Regions from separate parts of the Homo sapiens genome. Here region 1 is linked to region 2. Evidence: fine-mapped expression QTL. A gene starts in region 2. The other region holds a variant in brackets. All regions are shown on one strand. Distances are between the middles of the regions.

Region 1 (8,337 bases), 320 kb before region 2:
GCCTGTTTATTGTGACTTTAAAAATCAAAGGGCTCTTTTAAGTTTCTGCTACTTGTGACTGGACAAATGGTCTGTTAAACAAATTTAAAAGAAAAAAACAACCCCATCAAAAAGTGGGAGAAGGGTATGAACAGACACTTCTCAAAAGAAGACATTTATGCAGCCAACAAGCATATGAAAAAAAGCTCATCATCAATGGTCATTAGAGAAATGCAAATCAAAACCACAATGAGATACCATCTCATGCCAGTTAGAATGCTGATCATTAAAAAGTCAAGAAACAACAGATGCTGGAGAGGATGTGGAGAAATAGGAACACTTTTACACTGTTGGTGGGACTGTAAACTAGTTCAAACATTGTGGAAGTCGGTGTGGCAATTCCTCAAGGATCTAGAACTAGAAATACCATTTGACCCAGCAATCCCATTACTGGGTATACACCCAAAGGATTATAAATCATTCTACTATAAAGACACATGTACATGTATGTTTATTGTGGCACTGTTCACATTAGCAAAGATGTGAAACCAACCCAAATGTCCATCAATGATAGACTGGATTAAGAAAATGTGGCACATATACGTCATGGAATATTATGCAGCCTTAAAAAACGGATGAGTTCATGTCCTTTGCAGGGACATGGATGACGCTGGAAATCATCATTCTCAGCAAACTAACACAAGGACAGAAAACCAAACACTGCATGTTCTCACTCATAAGTGGGAGTTGAACAATAAGAACACATGGACACAGGGAGGAGAACATCACACACTGCAGCATGTTGGGGGGTGGGGGGTGGGGGGCAAGGGGAGGGATAGCATTAGGAGAAATACCTAATGTAGATGACAGATTAATGTGTGCAGCAAACCACCATGGCACATGTATACCTATGTAACAAACCTGCACATCCTGCACATGTGCCTGAACTTAAAGTATAAACTAATAATGTGCAAGGTGCCCAGGCATGGTAACTCACACCTGTAATCCTAGCATTTTGGGAGGCCAAGATGGGTGGATGGCTTTAGCTCAGGGGTTCAAGACCAGCCTGGGCAACGTGATGAAACCCCATCTCTACAAAAAACACAAAAATTAACCGGGTATGGTGGTTTGCACCTGTAGTACCAGACACTTGGGGGGCTGACGTGGGAGGATCACTTGAGCCCAGGAGGTGGAGGCTGCAGTGAGCCAAGGTCATGCCAGTGTACTCCAGCATGGACAACACAGTTAGACCCTGCCTCAAAAAAAAAAAAAAAAAAGTGCAAGGCACTGTTAAAGCATTTGCTGGCCTAAAAGATACATAAAATAGTTCATCTTGTGTGACTTACTAAATATAATATGGATACCATCTTTGACATGTACATTAAATATGACGTCTACCCTTATAATAATAGGAGGAACTACAAAACTATTTTAAAAAGAAAGTGTGAACACTTTTAGGGAAAAAAAAATACGTATTCAAGGGTGATGCAGAACCTCAGGTCCAATCTGGCTGTATCAGAGAATCCTCTTGCAGGTCAGAAAAGGTTGTCTGAGGAAGCAAGGCTGGAAGCAGACTGTCCACAGGCAAAGGTGTTGATGCATTTAATGGGCTCTGGCAGCTGCTTTCACACATACTCAGTATGGAAGGAGGAATTGAAGTAGAAAAAAGGAGGAAAACGAAAGGAACAAGAAAAAGGAAATTTGCTTAAAGGAATTAATAAGTAAGCAAGAAGACCAAGGGGAAGAGACATTATATCATATTAATTCTATAAGCATAAAAAAGCTTAAAAATAAGATAGTCCAATGCCAATGTGATTTAATTATTATGTTGCCCCATTTGAAAGGAAATACTGCCTTTTGTAATCTGTCTAGTGCTAGCCAGTGGAACTTTCTGCTATGACGACCACATTCTATAGCTGTGCTGTTGAAGACAGCAGCCACTAGCGTCATAGGACAATTGAGCATATGAAATGCAGCTAGAGTGACTAAAAAACTGAGTTTTAAATTTATTTTTATTTTTTATTTTATTGTATTTTTTTGAGATGGAGTCTTGCTCTGTCACCCAGGCTGCAGTGCAGTGGCGCGACCCCGGCTCACTGCAACCTCCACCTCCCGGGGTCAAGCGATTCTCCTGCCTCAGCCTCCTGCATAGCTGGGACTGCAGGCACAGGCCACTATGCCTGGCTAATTTTTATATTTTTAGTAGAGACGGGGTTTCACCATGTTGGCCAGGCTGGTCTCAAACTCCTGCCCTCAGGTGATCCACCCCCCTCAGCCTCCCAAAGTGCTGGGATTACAGGCATGAGCCACCATTTCCAGCCTTAAATTTAAATTTAAACAGCCACATGAGGCTAGTGTCTATCCTTTTTGAATTCTGTACTCATACAGAATGAGTACAGAGAAGAATTCTGTACTCATACAGAATGAGTACAGAGCAGAATTCTGTACTCATACAAGATTTAAAATATAAAGAAACTTAAACTTAAGGAGGACCTAAGGGACAAATTCCCCTGTTTGGGAGATAATTAAATAATATTTGTATTGGTCTTTGCAATTTATACTATACTTTCATGTATTTCATTGAATTAATAAGAATATAGAAGCTAAAGATGAATGTGGAGTCTCCATCAACAGAGGCCATAAGAAAGGAATCATAGCCCTGTGTCTTCACCAATTAGAATGTGATTCTCATGGAGCAAAGCCCTTACTGAGCTATATTAGATAGGAAGGAGACAACAGTGATTAAGAATGAAGACTCTCAGCCAGACTGCCTGTGCTCAAAACCCAGTTCCTATTTCCTGGCTGTGTGATCTTACTGAAGCTACTTAACTTCTCTGTGCCTGTTTTCTCCTTATTTTAATGGCAATAGTAGTAGTACTGACCTCATAAGAGCTGACATGAGCTATATGAGCTAGCACATGCAAAACAGCTAGAACAGTGGCTGGCATACAAAATAAATTGCTCAGTGTTGGTTAGAAATTAACCAAGGGATCGGCAGTCCTACAGAAGAGGAAAACCTCTTTTGGGAGGACACACTGCTCTGGTCTTGCCGAGTCCTCCTTCTGACTGTGATATGTTTTTGCCTCAGGAATGTCAGATGAGGTCTCAGACAAGGTTCTAGACAAGGGAAAGCACAATATTAAACAAATAATAATGATGGGTCTTCAACCAAGTTTTCATTTCCTCTGATAATCCAATTCCATCATCCTATCAGCCTAATTGTTATCCTATTTAGTTTTCATGGCCACTTTTCCTTCTAACTTCTAATGGGTTACAAAACATAGTTAAGATTATGAGCTGATAATTCCTATCAATTATTAAATGTTTTCATGTGAGCCGAGTATTATAAGTGATATTCATAGTCAGAATTCTTGGAGACCGCTACTTTTCACCTTGCAACTGAGGTGTATTTTGTATTCATAATCCTTGCTCTTTGCTATGCCCTGGCCTGTTCCTGAACTCTCTCTTTGTCTGCTTTTCCAAGCCTCCTCTGTCCCCATCCATCTGGCACTCACATACCCCCTCACTTCTGCTTCCACCTCTCTCCAGCAGGCTCACTGCTTGGTGCAGATGGAGAGATACTTTTGAAGTTTTCAGGAAATCCTCTCAAGGGCAGTGAAACAATTTGTCTGTGAGCAGAGATGATACTGAATGCATTGGAATGGAGGTAAAATTTAGAATATCCAAGGGAAAAATGCGTTAGTTAAAATAGAGGATGATTTTTAAAATAATTTTCAGGAGTAATGGGAAATAAAGATTTTCAAGGTGTGCCAGAGCTAACAAACCACAGCATATGACAAGAGCTCCTACAATTGCTAAGAAATAAAATGCAAGAATATATTTTATTCTCTTCCAAATACAAATTCAATGATGTGCTTTGAATCAGTACATGAAAATACTCAGGTTGCAAAGATTCTGTGAAAAATGGTAATCT[C/G]TAGGGGCTTATGCATTAATCCTTACCTGAGGCATGCTTTTGCATGTTTAGTATAAATTATTCTTTATAAAATTGCACTGAGCATAATAGGACATGTAGCTTGTAACTAGGTTAACAAACAATAGATTAATAGCATTTCATATCATTCACAGATAACTAAAAAGTCAAAAACCCAAAATATTAATAAAGAATTTAGAAAACATTACTTCAAATAGAAGTCAAATTCATGTTTTGGAAAATACTAGTATTATCTCAATAATTTCAGAGGGCAGAAGTCTCACCAAGACAACTGAACAATGTAAATATGTCTTTATAATTCTTCATTTTCTAGTTTGAAGTTGTAAAAAAAACTTCATAGGAAGAAAAACACAGTCTCCTGCAACAATGTGAGTTACTAATGAGTCCACTGCTTCCTCAATCTCACACAACATTCTAGACAAATGCCTCAGCCAGTGCTATTGAGTGACATCAGCTCACATTGCAATATATTTTCTGATGTGTATAATAAATTACAAATACTTAATAATTTATCATGGTTGCTTTGAGAGCATCACACAGCACTTAGCATCTAACTCAAAATAACTATTGCCCTTCTCACAACAAATTCCAAAGCCCTCATTTTTCTACTTACTATGCTAATTAACATTCCTTTTAATCTTCTTCTTTAATTTATCCTGTAAATTTTAAAATAGCATCTTAGAAAGAAACTTAAGGGTAATCTTGGGTCAACCTTACCAGTGCAGGAATCTCACTAGCATCTCTAAAAGATGGCCATAAATGATTTTTTCTATTCTCAAGACTGTTTTATGTTGGTTGGTAGGTTGACTACTTTGTTTAGTTTGCCTTTGCTATGAGTCTTTCTTTAGAATCTATTAAGTTAATTGTGGCATTCGGACATTTATTTAAAGGGCAGTGGAAACCAAAGTGTGTAAAGGCTAATACTCCTCAATGCCAAAAGTAAGGAAGTTAAGAAAGGTCAATCAATGATTAAATTGTTTATCATTAGTTAATATAAAATAAAGGATGTATTTTTAGCTGACAAACTAAATTCAAGGTTGGCACTACACAAAAAAAATCACAGACAACTGAATAAAGAATTACCACAGTATTAGTTATTTAAGACACGTTCCTGTGTATCCATGGTTGATCAACACACAGGATTCTGAGAAAAATTATTTTATAAAAGCATGGTGCTCACCTTAAAGAGTACACTATCTTGCTAGAGAAAATAGACATACATATTAAGGCATATTATTGCATTCAAAGGGTAGCAGGTAAATAATATACAAATATGCCTAGAGACTACAAATTAAGTTTAATGAAATGAGTTAAGCACTTTCTTCTCTCCACTTTCTTGGAGAGGTTCAGGTCTTACAAATTAGGATATGTGAAAAAAGAATAATAGTCCCTTATAGCCAGGCAGGGGTGAATATTATAGGTCACATAAAGAAGAAAAATTCAAAAGAACTCTCAGAAATGAATTTGTGTGATTCAGATTGTGGAGGCAAGAAAGAGAGAGATAGATGGATTCCCTCAAATGTCCGATTAAGACAAGATTGGCTATGAAATGAAGTAGAGATCTCAGGTTGTGGAGTTATATCATATCAAGAAGCAGTAAGTTAAGAGAGCTGTCAGAGTTCTAGTGGCTGAAACCTATCCCTATCCAGGAAAGGCTAAAACCAGAATGAGGATGACTCTGATAGTGAAAAGCCCAAGATTCTTTCTCTAAGGAATTATGTGTGCTGACTCCTAGAAAGACCCATCCTCTCACAGTTACAAGAATGACGCCTTCAGCATCACAAACACAGCTGCAATGTGGCTTAGCCCCCAGCAGAATGCAATTGACAGAAACACATTTATCTTCCTCTCCTCCAGAAAATATTTTTAAAGGGACTGGATTCAAAGCTACAGAAAAGCAAGGGGAGGGCTCCTTTAGGTTGTACAGTCAGGTGCGAAGAGCAATGCAGGCAAATAGTACATCCTGGAAAGAGTTAAGAACATAGATTAAGGATTGGATGAATGTTATCTGGAAATTTCCTCTAGTCAGGTAAAAGCTGAACACACCAAGCTCTATGACTTGGTCCAGTCTCTGTTCCGTTCACACTTCACTGGCTACTTTTAACTATTCTCTATGTAGCCTTCTCTGAACCCACATTTACCAATCCCAATTAAATTCTCACAGCACCTGGTGTTCTTAGCACTAATCACAGCTTATAGGTCAATAACTCTGGACATACCGGCTGATAATGTAGGAGGACAGTGGGGAAGTCAAGGGCTCTGTGCTGTGGAGAGAAATGCTAGGGTTCAAATCTTGGTTCCAACAATTCCTAGTTGTAAATAAATGTATTTCATACCTCATAATGTTATTGTAAAGATTAACAACCAGTACATGTAAAGGATGCAGAAAAATGTCTGTCATGTAATATGTGCTCAATAAATATGGGGTAACATCATCCATGGACCCATGAGAGCAGGAACCATGTCTGTTTCATTCTCTATCACCTCTCTGGGACTAGCACAATGTTTGGGAAGTAGCAGAGCTTAGTGAATACATGTGGAGGGCATGAATACTTAATCACTTCATTCTTTGCTACCCATTAAGCCCTTGATATATTTGTTGATACATGTTTACTGTGTCTCCTTATTCCCCAGTTGCTAGGGGTAAGACATTGTTCCTTTTGTATGCCCCACACAACTCTTCATGATGTTGATACTTAAACTTAACCAAGTTCTTTCCCAAATACTTAAGGAGTCAGATTTAGAGAAATGTGGATGGAGGCAAAATCCCCTGGAGTTCTCAACTGTGCTATCAAGATGCTTCTACATTATAAAATGGATATAAAAATACATAGCTCTAGTATATATTTAAGAAGGCAAAAAAATGGTTTATTCCTCTAACTTATCAACTGAGAGTCTTTCAGCCACAAAATGTAATTATTTAGCCCCACTCTAAATCATTCATAAAAATGTTCAGTGATGGGTCTCCACAGCATGCTTATGACTTTTTAAAATTGATTTTAATAATGGTGTACATGGAGGTTAAACCACAGAGTTAAAAATGAACATACTGGCAATATCTAAGCCAGAGAAATAGCAATACAAAAAAATTGAAAGGCAAATGAATAAAATATATCTTCAAATGACTGGCAATATTAAAGTCAAAAAACATTAAATAGTATGAGATTACACTTAAGGGTCAGAGACAGAAATCTCAGATTCTTTGTACCTGTAGTTAGGGTCAAAAGAGAGACAGTAAACACTTACATGGGTCAAATGAGACATGGGCAGAAACTAGAATGGCTGGTTGGTAGGACTGGATCTAAAGGAGGTAGTCTTTTCTGTGATATAATTTCTAGCTTTCTGAGAGAGTCTTTGCCTTCATAAGCAATATTACTTAGCATAAATCTCACAGTTAGAGCTTAATTTCTTTGACTAAGATAGTGTATGTTTCTCAAAGAGGAATACTTTGACTCCTTGGAGGTTTGGAGCCATGTGTCAAAAGATTGTGCAAAGCCACAGGATAAACATAGCTTATTTTCCTGCAAATTATGTTTTTCTTAAATATTGGAAGCATAGGGAGATGAACGTTTTAACTGGTAGTAATTTAGATCATTCGTTTATTTAACAAATGAATAAATTATGCTGTAGAATGCAAATCTTGTACATGTAAAGAATGCAGAAAAATGTCTGTCATGTAATATGTGCTCAATAAATATAGGGTAACATCATCTATGGACCCATGAGAGCAGGAACCATGTCTGTTTCATTCTCTGTCACCTCTCTGGGACTAGCACAATGTTTGGGAAATCTCAGTAGAATGCAAATCTTGCATTCTACATTTTTAAAAACAAAGCATGAAACTACAGAGAGGCATCATGTTTGTGTAGATCACTTTAGGGTACCTAGGGCTTTAGGTTGAAGAGGGAAACTTCCATGGCAAAGACGCAAAAACAAGAGGGAAAGGAAATGAAGGACACAAAGACACAGTTCACTGTTTTGGCTGAGACCCAGAACTCCTTAGCTCAGAACTACTAACAGCAAAGGTGGCAGAGATACCATGGTAGAGTCTGCAAAATGCAAACTTACTAGAACTGGCAATCTTCAACACCTAGGCAGGATGGCAGCAACTAAAGCTCACAAAACACTAGAAAAGTATGTTATCAGAGTTGAGGAGATGCTATGTGGACATGGGGGAGGAGAAGAACAATTTCAAGGTCTGAATGAGACAAAGGCCAGAGCATCAGATCTGCAGTTACTTGTCAACTCACTGAATGGTGAGGGATGCAAAGGCACAGGTGTGCACACTAGCAAGGTTCAGAAGTGAATTTTGACAATTGTGTGTTAGAGATGATAACAGTTCAACTGAGATGACAAGGAAATTGCTTATAGATGTCCACATGAACTTACCACATCAGAAAACAATA
Region 2 (8,337 bases):
TTAGCAGGTATCAAAGCCTGAAGATGCATTACTGTCATCCCCAAATGGAACATCTGCATTCTCAAAATGATTCCTAGGAGAGCCATAATTTATTTACCAAAGAAATATCACCATTAATAATGGTTAAGGCTAGCAATGCAACAAGCCAGAGCAGAGAGCTAGGAGTCAGGAGCGTCTCAACAGTACCTCTCAAATCATTCCAACAGCATTGCCCACCACTGAGAAAGGGTGTCCTGGGATGAGACAATATTATGCTCAGCGTCCCTCCCAGTGAGTGGGTGAGTTTGTCGCAATTTGTCAAATTACCAAGTAGAAATGAAAATCAAAGAAAAAAGAGAGAAAGCCCAAATCTAAATTCCAATTCCTAGCAGAAAGAAAACCCTCTCTTGAAATGGAAACAATAAGCCAGCCAACTCTCAGCTCATAGCCTCTCCTGGGAACAACATGAAGTGGCCGTCCCTATTGAATGAACCACATTTGTGAGTCTGGGGATGCCCAGTCAGAGTCTATCAAGAAAACAGCAAGTTTCCTGAACCTCCGCAAGCCAGCCAACTTGACAGACATGGAGATGTGGCCAGGTCTTGGCTGTGGGTCCAGGAAGAGAGAAATTCAAGCAGCATCTTCTTTTAAGACACTGGGACAGAGCAACTCCACTCCCCCCAACTAAAGCAAGGTCATCTTTATGATGGGCATTCTAACTACCTGAGAAAGGTGGTAGGAAGGAAACTTGGAAGGAAAAAAACATGTGTGTAGTGTGCTGTACATCGTGCCCTGAAGACAATGGAACATTCATACACAAAGATTGGCACGCAATTGCCAATGTGAATGTCAGACGGGTTATTTGCTGCATAAATACCAATTAAACAAGCCCCGCAGCAGCTTCAACCTGCTCAGCCAACTTTGAAAAGAGCACATCTCTCCAGACCTCTAACTTTCTCCTGCACTCACTGGAGCTCAGCTCTTCCTTTTCTCTATTCCTTTTGGATGTAGATGTTTTTAGAATTATTCAAGCAGCCATAACTTTCGAACGGTGCATAACAGGGCAGAACTAGCTAGCACAATCCAAACAGAACAAATTGAGCCTAAGGAACAGTATACAGCTGTGTTCTCAGTATCTTCTTCTTTATTCCGGGTCAATTGTCTCCTACAAAGCCTCCCGTCATCTATTTCTCCCCACATCCCTTATTCAAAAGCAAGAATTCTCTATCTTAGACATGGTACAACCTGTAGTTGACTCTAAAATGGAAAAATTGCATTTTAAAAAACCTTGGTTCATTTTCCCTGACGGAGGAAGCTTTTCTTTTCAAAATTATCAAGCCACACGTTTTCAAGAACCAGAGAATGAATTGCACACAGCTGATTCTGCCTCCTACAGAGATCTTTCACGGTATTATTCACAAGCAAGTGACCAAGGTAAACTAAAGTGGTTTCTGTAGCCATTTGCAATTATTGACAAACAATTTCATAACGGAAAGTGGAAATTACAGGCAAGTGCAATAAGCTGTTTATCCACGATCTACCTGCTGGTGGCTCTTTTTCTCTATTTTTCTTTCAAGCAAAATACAAGCTACCATAGGAATGCTTTTCTCCCGTTCATGATTTTTCTTGTATCTCCACCACCAACCCTGTTTTCCAGTTCTGTCAGTTGGCAGGATTTGTATTCAATCGCGGTAGTAGCCCAGACTCTAGTGTATTCTTGGGTGTTCCAGAGACTCCCGCACCTTCAGGTTTGTGGGAAAGGATCCCCCAAATGGCAAATAAGGCACTCCCTCCCGGGGTGGGACTTGCTTAGGGGACTTAAGGGTTTCTGCAACCGGCGAGGGGGTCTGTTTTCACCCCCGCTATCTTGGGTGCGCAGACACTCTCTGACACCAGGCTTCACAGTTTGGGCCACGGGGGAAGTAATTCCCCAGGGAACCGCGGGGGTGCGGTTTTGCGCAACTGGGTGACTCGCGTGTCCCTCCGCATTTCATTTGCACCAAGGGAGCGCGTGTCAGACGAAGGGAATTTTTTTTTCTTTTTTGGTGATTCTGTTATTTTTTCACCAACTGTACGAAGCTCAAGGGATATCCGAGCTTTCTGGCTGGGCGGATGGGCTTCGCGCTTGGCATGGCTGAGCGGTCCATCTCTACCTCTCCGTTTCTATCTCTACCATAACAGCGACCACTCAGCCCGCCAGGAGCCCCTGTTTCCCAGCGCAGGTTCCTTTTTCTTCTCAGTTCCTTGGGCTGTTGAAGCCGGGTTCTGGGTAGATAGAGACTGGGGCCGTGGGGAGAGCGCCAGGCTGCTTTTGCCTTTCCCGCGCCCCGGGGCATTCCGGCGCGCTGGGGATGCAGCCTCCGCCCCCGCCGCACCTGGCCGCCCGAGCGCCCGCGCCCACGCCCCGCGCGGGGCCGCCCGAAACTGGGGCCGCGCCAGCCGCGGGAGCTACCGAGGAGCTGTTGGGGTGCGTTTGCCTTTGCTTTTTAAACAAGATCCCCGAGACCTTTTCTCCATCCCCCCAACCCCCAGCAGGACACGGAACTCCGGCGTTTCTCGAAAGCCACAAAAGAGGGGCACGGAAATCCCAAGCTCGCCGTGCTAACTCGGAGAACGCAAACTCGAGGCAGAGCGTGCGCCGTGCGGGGATGTGGGTGTCGAGGACCCCGAAGCGCCCGGCTTCCCCCGCGACCCCCATCCTCCCTAGATCCTGGTTAGACATCCATCCAGCCCACGCTCAGAGGGCGGGGGTTACCCCGACTCATCCCGGAAGCCGCTAACTTCAGAAATCCCTCCTGTTAGGTTCGCGAAACGAAGGTACCTCGTCATCTCGGCGGGGCAAGTCCGGATTCCACCAGGGCAGGTCCGGGAGGTCACCCAGGGCAGACGATCCGAGGCAGAGCGCTTTAAAATCCTGCCGCCGCACGCCCAGTCAGAGCGCCGAGCGCGCCTGCCCCCTTCCCGTCACCCTTCAGTCTCCCATTCGCCGACTAAACTTTTGGGGGATCACATCTCCAAGCCTTGGGAGTTCCGGGTAAAGTCTCCCTCTTTTCTGAACCTCTTTACTGTAATGTAATCATGGGCAGACAAGAGGGGTGGCTGCCTTGTTCTTTGCAACGTAAAATCAACAGACACCCAATCAAGCTCCAATGCCCGGCCAGCCCCTCGCCCCCTGGTGCCCACTCTCCTTCTCCCCCCATTCCCGTCACCTCCGCCCGCTATTTCTCTCACAGACTACGGACATGCAGGGCCATCTACTTGTGCTCAGGAAAAACAAATCACTAGAGTGATATGAGAAGGAATGGTGCACCTGGCTGTCCGCTGAAAGGTTTTAGAGAAGAAAACGGAAAGGGGAATAAAACGGGGGGATTCTCCTTTTCCAACAAGCAGGGCGTTTTGGGGAAGTTTGGGGGCCAGGGGCTTTTTGTCCCGTGGTTCGGCACTTGCTTTCCTCGGAGCCGCTTTCTGCTGCCGGGCGGCGAGTCTTACCCTGCTCCCCGCAGAGGGCGCGGTGAGGAAGCCCGCCGGGGGCCCGCAGCTCCATGTCAGCGCCGCCGCCGCCGCCGCCGCCGCCGCGTGAGGCGAGCACAGCGGCCGCACTTGTGGCTGATCTCTGGGCTGAGGGGGCTGAGCTGGCCTAGCAGGCGCCAAGTCTCTTCCATGTGAATAACAAATACTCCCACCGGCGGCCGCGATTGGTCTGCGCCCGGCGCCTCCCGATCCTCCGCCCGCGGCCATTCACCCGGCGCGGCGCGGGGAGCCGCGGCCAGGATCGCGCCCGGGATCGCCAATCGCTTCGCGCCAACCAGTCACCTCGGGAAGCGGGAGGAGGAACCCCCGAGGGGCGGGAGCCTCTGGATTTCGGTGTCACCCAGCGGCCCTGGCGCGGGCAGGGAGGGGGACCCTCGGCCCGCGGATCCCCCTCCGCTCTTCAGCCTGAAGCGACGAGGAGACCAGAAATGTCAATAGTTCTGATTTTTAAAAATCATCCCCCCTTCCCCGCCCCCAAGAAAAAGGGGAGGACCCAACTACAGAGTGAGAGGGTGGGAAGAAGCGGGAGCGGTAGAAGAAGGAATATGGTTGTGGAGGAGCCCAGCGGCTCCGGCTGCCTGGCGAGCCCGGGACCGGCGCGGGGAGGCGCGACGCCCGCCCGAGCACAGCGGGCAGCACCCGCGAGCCCGGGTCCCCGGTGAACACAGCTCCAGAAAGCGTCACCGAGAATAACACATGGTAGATGACAAGTGTCCCGCCACATGCTTTCTTTTCGGGAATGCTTAAAGTAGAGCCGGCAAGCCGCGCGGTTCCCTTGCAAAGTTTGCCTGGCGCCGCGCGGCGGTTCCGCCATTTGTCCCGCCCCGCGGCTCTGGCGATTGTCTCCCCACTCCCCGCCCCCGAGGGTCTGAGGGACGCGTGCAACAGAGTCCCCAGGGCTCGAGGTACCACACAGCGCGGTCCGCTGCGGGCACTGCGCAGGAAGGGGCATGGGTGGCTACCGGGACGGTCATTTTATTGAGATGATTCAAGGAGCCGCAGACGCGGGGCAGGAAACTCCGGGGGAGCCGTGCTCGGGTTCTGCAGGGAAACCTCGGGATTCCCTTCGCATGCCGCATGCGGAAACCTGCCGGGCTCGACGTGCACAGTCCAGCGCTCCTCCCCACTAGTTACTGCCCAGGCCCCCCGATCCTGCACCCGCCGGAATGAGAGAAAGTAGCCCCTCGCCGCCCAGCTCCCGGGTAGCTGCTCCGGCCGGGCCTTGCGTTGGTGAGAAAGTTCCATCTAGAGGCGGCCGCGCGCAACTGCAGGCGGCGCCCTAGGCCCGGGCGAGCCAGGGAGAGCGGGGCGCGGGGGGAGAGGGGGCAGCCCAGGAGATAAGGAGGATGGAGAAGGACGGGAGAGACCCCGAAAAGGCAAGCTCTAGACCCCCGTTCGGCATCTCTACAATGAATTTTATCTTCCTAAGCATCATGAACTTATAAGCATTATGTCAGGAATCTTTCATTAATTCCTGTATATATCGCCTGTTCTGTTCGGGTTATTTTAATTTTCACATCAACTCTGTGAGATGGTCAAAATTATTAAGCCCACTCTACAGATGGAGGCAGAAGCCGAGGCTTAGAGACACGGCTGGAAAGTATTACAGCCAGAAATCAGTGTCTGGCTTCAAAACCCCATAGCACTTCCTCCCTGGTGGTGTTGGCTTTTCCCAAGGCTGGTTGTAATGTGCGAAGTTTCGATTGAGGAAACAGCTGTCTCTCTCCTAATTTCAAAAAAGGACCCTTGCCCTTTGTCACTTAGAAAAAATCTACAGGTTTTCAGCCCAGGGCACCTCTTCCCCTTTCGTTCCCTTCCTTCTCCCATCTCATGAGAGGCTCTTTGATTGTTGAATCATTATTTTATAGCTGCAACCACAAAAGAGGGAGGGAGGAGGATTTGGAGAGAGAAAATGGGCTGGGTCCTCTGTCTGAAAACCTTTCTGCATAGGGAACCTCAATTCCCTGTGAATGTCTAGTGCAGCTCTGAAGAGGGTGATCAGTGTCCGGTGCCACTTGGGACAAGGAAGGTGGGAAGAGGGAAGAGCTCCTAATTTATGCGGAGATGGGGCTGGGTGGACTTCCTGGTTGCACGCCTGCGTGTAAGACGCTTTAAAGATTTTCTTTTCTTAGGGACTGGAAGAGATCCCTCCTCCCCCAGAAGTGTAAAGTAAGTGCAGTGGCCTGATTTCTATAGCAGGAAGCCCACTCCACCCCAAACTCCAGACCCATGATCCCGGTCTGAGCAATGATATCACAGATAACGTAGAGGTATGAATAAGTCCGTTTTAGACCATTTACTACGTGTGCATTGATAAATTTGAGGGGAAAAGAGACACGACGGAGGGGAAAGGCAGAGGAGGCCCGCAAATACGTTGGGCATCGACAACTGCTGACCACACATCGTCTTCAGGGTAGGCTAGAGGCCAGCTGCAGGGCCAGTTGGGTCGTTGCCTGGCATGAGCCAAGAGGGCAGCAGCCTGGTGCTCTAGTGGGCCCATTTTAATAATAAGGGCAATAAGGCTGGCTGTGGCTTTGGAAGCCTAAGGAGGCCGAGTGAGCCTCTTGGGGAAGAAATGCCTAATGAGCTGCCTTTCTCCTTTCCCTATTGATCATTACCTGCAGAGAACTGATGTCTTACAGGCACATCGCTGCCCTTTTTGGTGCAGCCTTCTGCGAGAAAACTAGACTTGATCTCTCCTAAGGAAAGTGCAAGTCCGATGCTTCGTTTTGCATCATCTTTAACTCTTGATACTCAAAATAGAACCATCACTCAAATCCTACATGGAATCTGGTCAATAAGAAATAGAGCCCTTCTATATATTCTTCAGTGTTTCCAATGGCTTTATCTAGTAGCCCCTGAGCAAGTGACACAGCCTTCTGTACAGGTTATAATTTGCCCATGTACAGGTTATAATTCGCCCAGACTGATAGCAACACTGGGACACAGGAAGAAAGATTGTCTCCAGGAGGGACTGGTCCTTATCAGTAACATTCACAGGAAAAAGTTATTGGCTGTACAACCTCTATTCGTCAGGGCCAAACACCATGATGCTGCTTGCTCATTGCTGCAATCTGAGTCAGGGGAGAGTGTCTGAAGACCAGGCCGTCCAGACATGCAGCTTATTCTAGAGTCATCCACCTTGCCTCCCCTTGGGATCCCACCCTCTGCAATACACACTGTGTCTTTGGAAAGTGTCTGACCTCATCCTCCATCCCACCCCAAATGTTTATTCAAACCAAGTATATTTCCTAGTAGTTAATCCTCCAGGAAGATTTGCCTATAATCTTCTCATTTTCAGTTGATTTAAAATGTGAGAAACTGCCCATGTGTTAGAAAATGCAAAAAACAATGCCATATGTTTGGGGTCCATTTAACTCAAGCTGTGATACATATTCCACACATGGAGATTTATGCCACAATTCCTGCTTTGGAGTAATCATTAAGGCTGAGAACCTTTGCAGGCTACTCACCCAAGAGAAATATCGACAGCATGATGCTCCCACATGGAGCAAAGCTGACAGGGGAAAGTGGGAATGGGATTTGTTTCTTTTGGAAACGAAGACAATATTTTTCTTGCTAGACCATCTGCACATGGCAGTGAGTGTACCATGTGGGTTTTGCTCAGTTTATTAGACACTGGCTGCTAGAAGCAAGATCAGACATGTTAGACTGACAGTCAGATAGAGCCAATGAGATTCATGACACCAATGTCATGAATGAGTGTGTTCTGCACTTCCACAGTCAACTCATACCTGCATACAGGAGTCATGGGAAAGATTCTTTAAGAATTTCTGACATATGGTATATGGGCATCTCTACTGGCTTCATTTGGGTTCCCCTAGAAGCACAACCTGAAACAAGGATTCAAGAGCAGGTAGTTTAAGAGGTGAAGGGAATCCCAGTACTCAGGTGGGGAAGTGAGCCAATAAAGGGTGCATTATCAAGCTAGGTATCACTGTAGGCACCTGGTACCTAATCCCAGTGGGGAACTCTGGAAGTCAGTGTAAAACACACAGCAGAGAGTGGGTCCAACTGAGGGATGAGGGAGCTGGGGTATCTATACACCAACACTTATAAGATGTTAGTTAAGAACTGCTACCAGATGATGTTTATTCTCTGGCAATTCTAGCCTATCACATGGATGGCAAAGCAGCCTCCAGAGATCATGTAAAGACCTCTGGAAAAAAAATGCAGGGGCTGGCAGTTAGTAGGCAGGTGATATGTAATCAGGGGTCAAGGACAAGACAATAAGGGCAGGTCACAGTTAGCCTCTGCAACACCTGTTTAGGCAAACCTCATAAAACTTGTACTAATCAAGGCAGTGCCTCTCTATGTGTGTTGCAAGGACCACCTGCCTCAAAATCACAGGGGTGCTGATTGTAAGCACAGATTTCTGGGCCCTATCCCAGAGCTGTTTGAATCAGACTTGCTGGGATGGGGCCTGGGAAGCTGCCTGTTTTGCAAACGTTCCAGGAAATGACGTTCACTAAAATTTAAAATGTACTACATTCAGGAAATCATTCTCCTCACAGGCAGCCAGCAGGCAGCACATTTAAATATATGAATACTTGCTTGCAATGCCTAAGGAGGCAGACCTGAGAAATGAGGAGCCCAGGGAAGGGGTGCCTATATGCTCATATCTGTCCATGGCCACAGAAGCTCTCTTTTCTCTCTTTTACTCCACTCTCCCTTTAGATGGGGTTTAACACTGAGAAGGTTCCATCGAGTATTTTCTGGGGGGAAAAAGAGGCTGAGCTCCACCCCTAACTTTGCCATTAATAAGTCATATTATCTTGACCCTTTCACATTTCTATACTGCAATTC

Alleles and levels. Positions count from the first base shown, and alleles are read on the strand shown. Sizes are in standard deviations (SD) of each study's normalised expression.
For the expression in lymphoblastoid cells of the gene that starts at base 3,613 in region 2, allele G in region 1 goes with a lower level than allele C (moderate effect, 0.40 SD a copy in GEUVADIS).

The links. PIP is the estimated chance that this variant, and not a neighbour inherited with it, causes the effect.
Region 1: its variant is the best candidate, but not a certain one, in a credible set for the expression of GRM8 in lymphoblastoid cells (GEUVADIS, PIP 0.51).

Annotation. Positions count from the first base shown.
Region 1 is chr7:126,927,434-126,935,770 of GRCh38, forward strand. All of the region lies in intron 3 of GRM8 (glutamate metabotropic receptor 8), which reads right to left. Among named protein-coding and RNA genes, the nearest start is that of MIR592, 130 kb to the right of the region's middle. The variant C/G (reference allele first, on the strand shown) is at 3,914.
Region 2 is chr7:127,249,329-127,257,665 of GRCh38, forward strand. GRM8 (glutamate metabotropic receptor 8) reads right to left here and starts at 3,613. Exons shown (of 11, transcript NM_000845.3): 1 at 3,469-3,613. RefSeq lists an enhancer at 4,451-4,700 and a silencer at 4,821-4,880.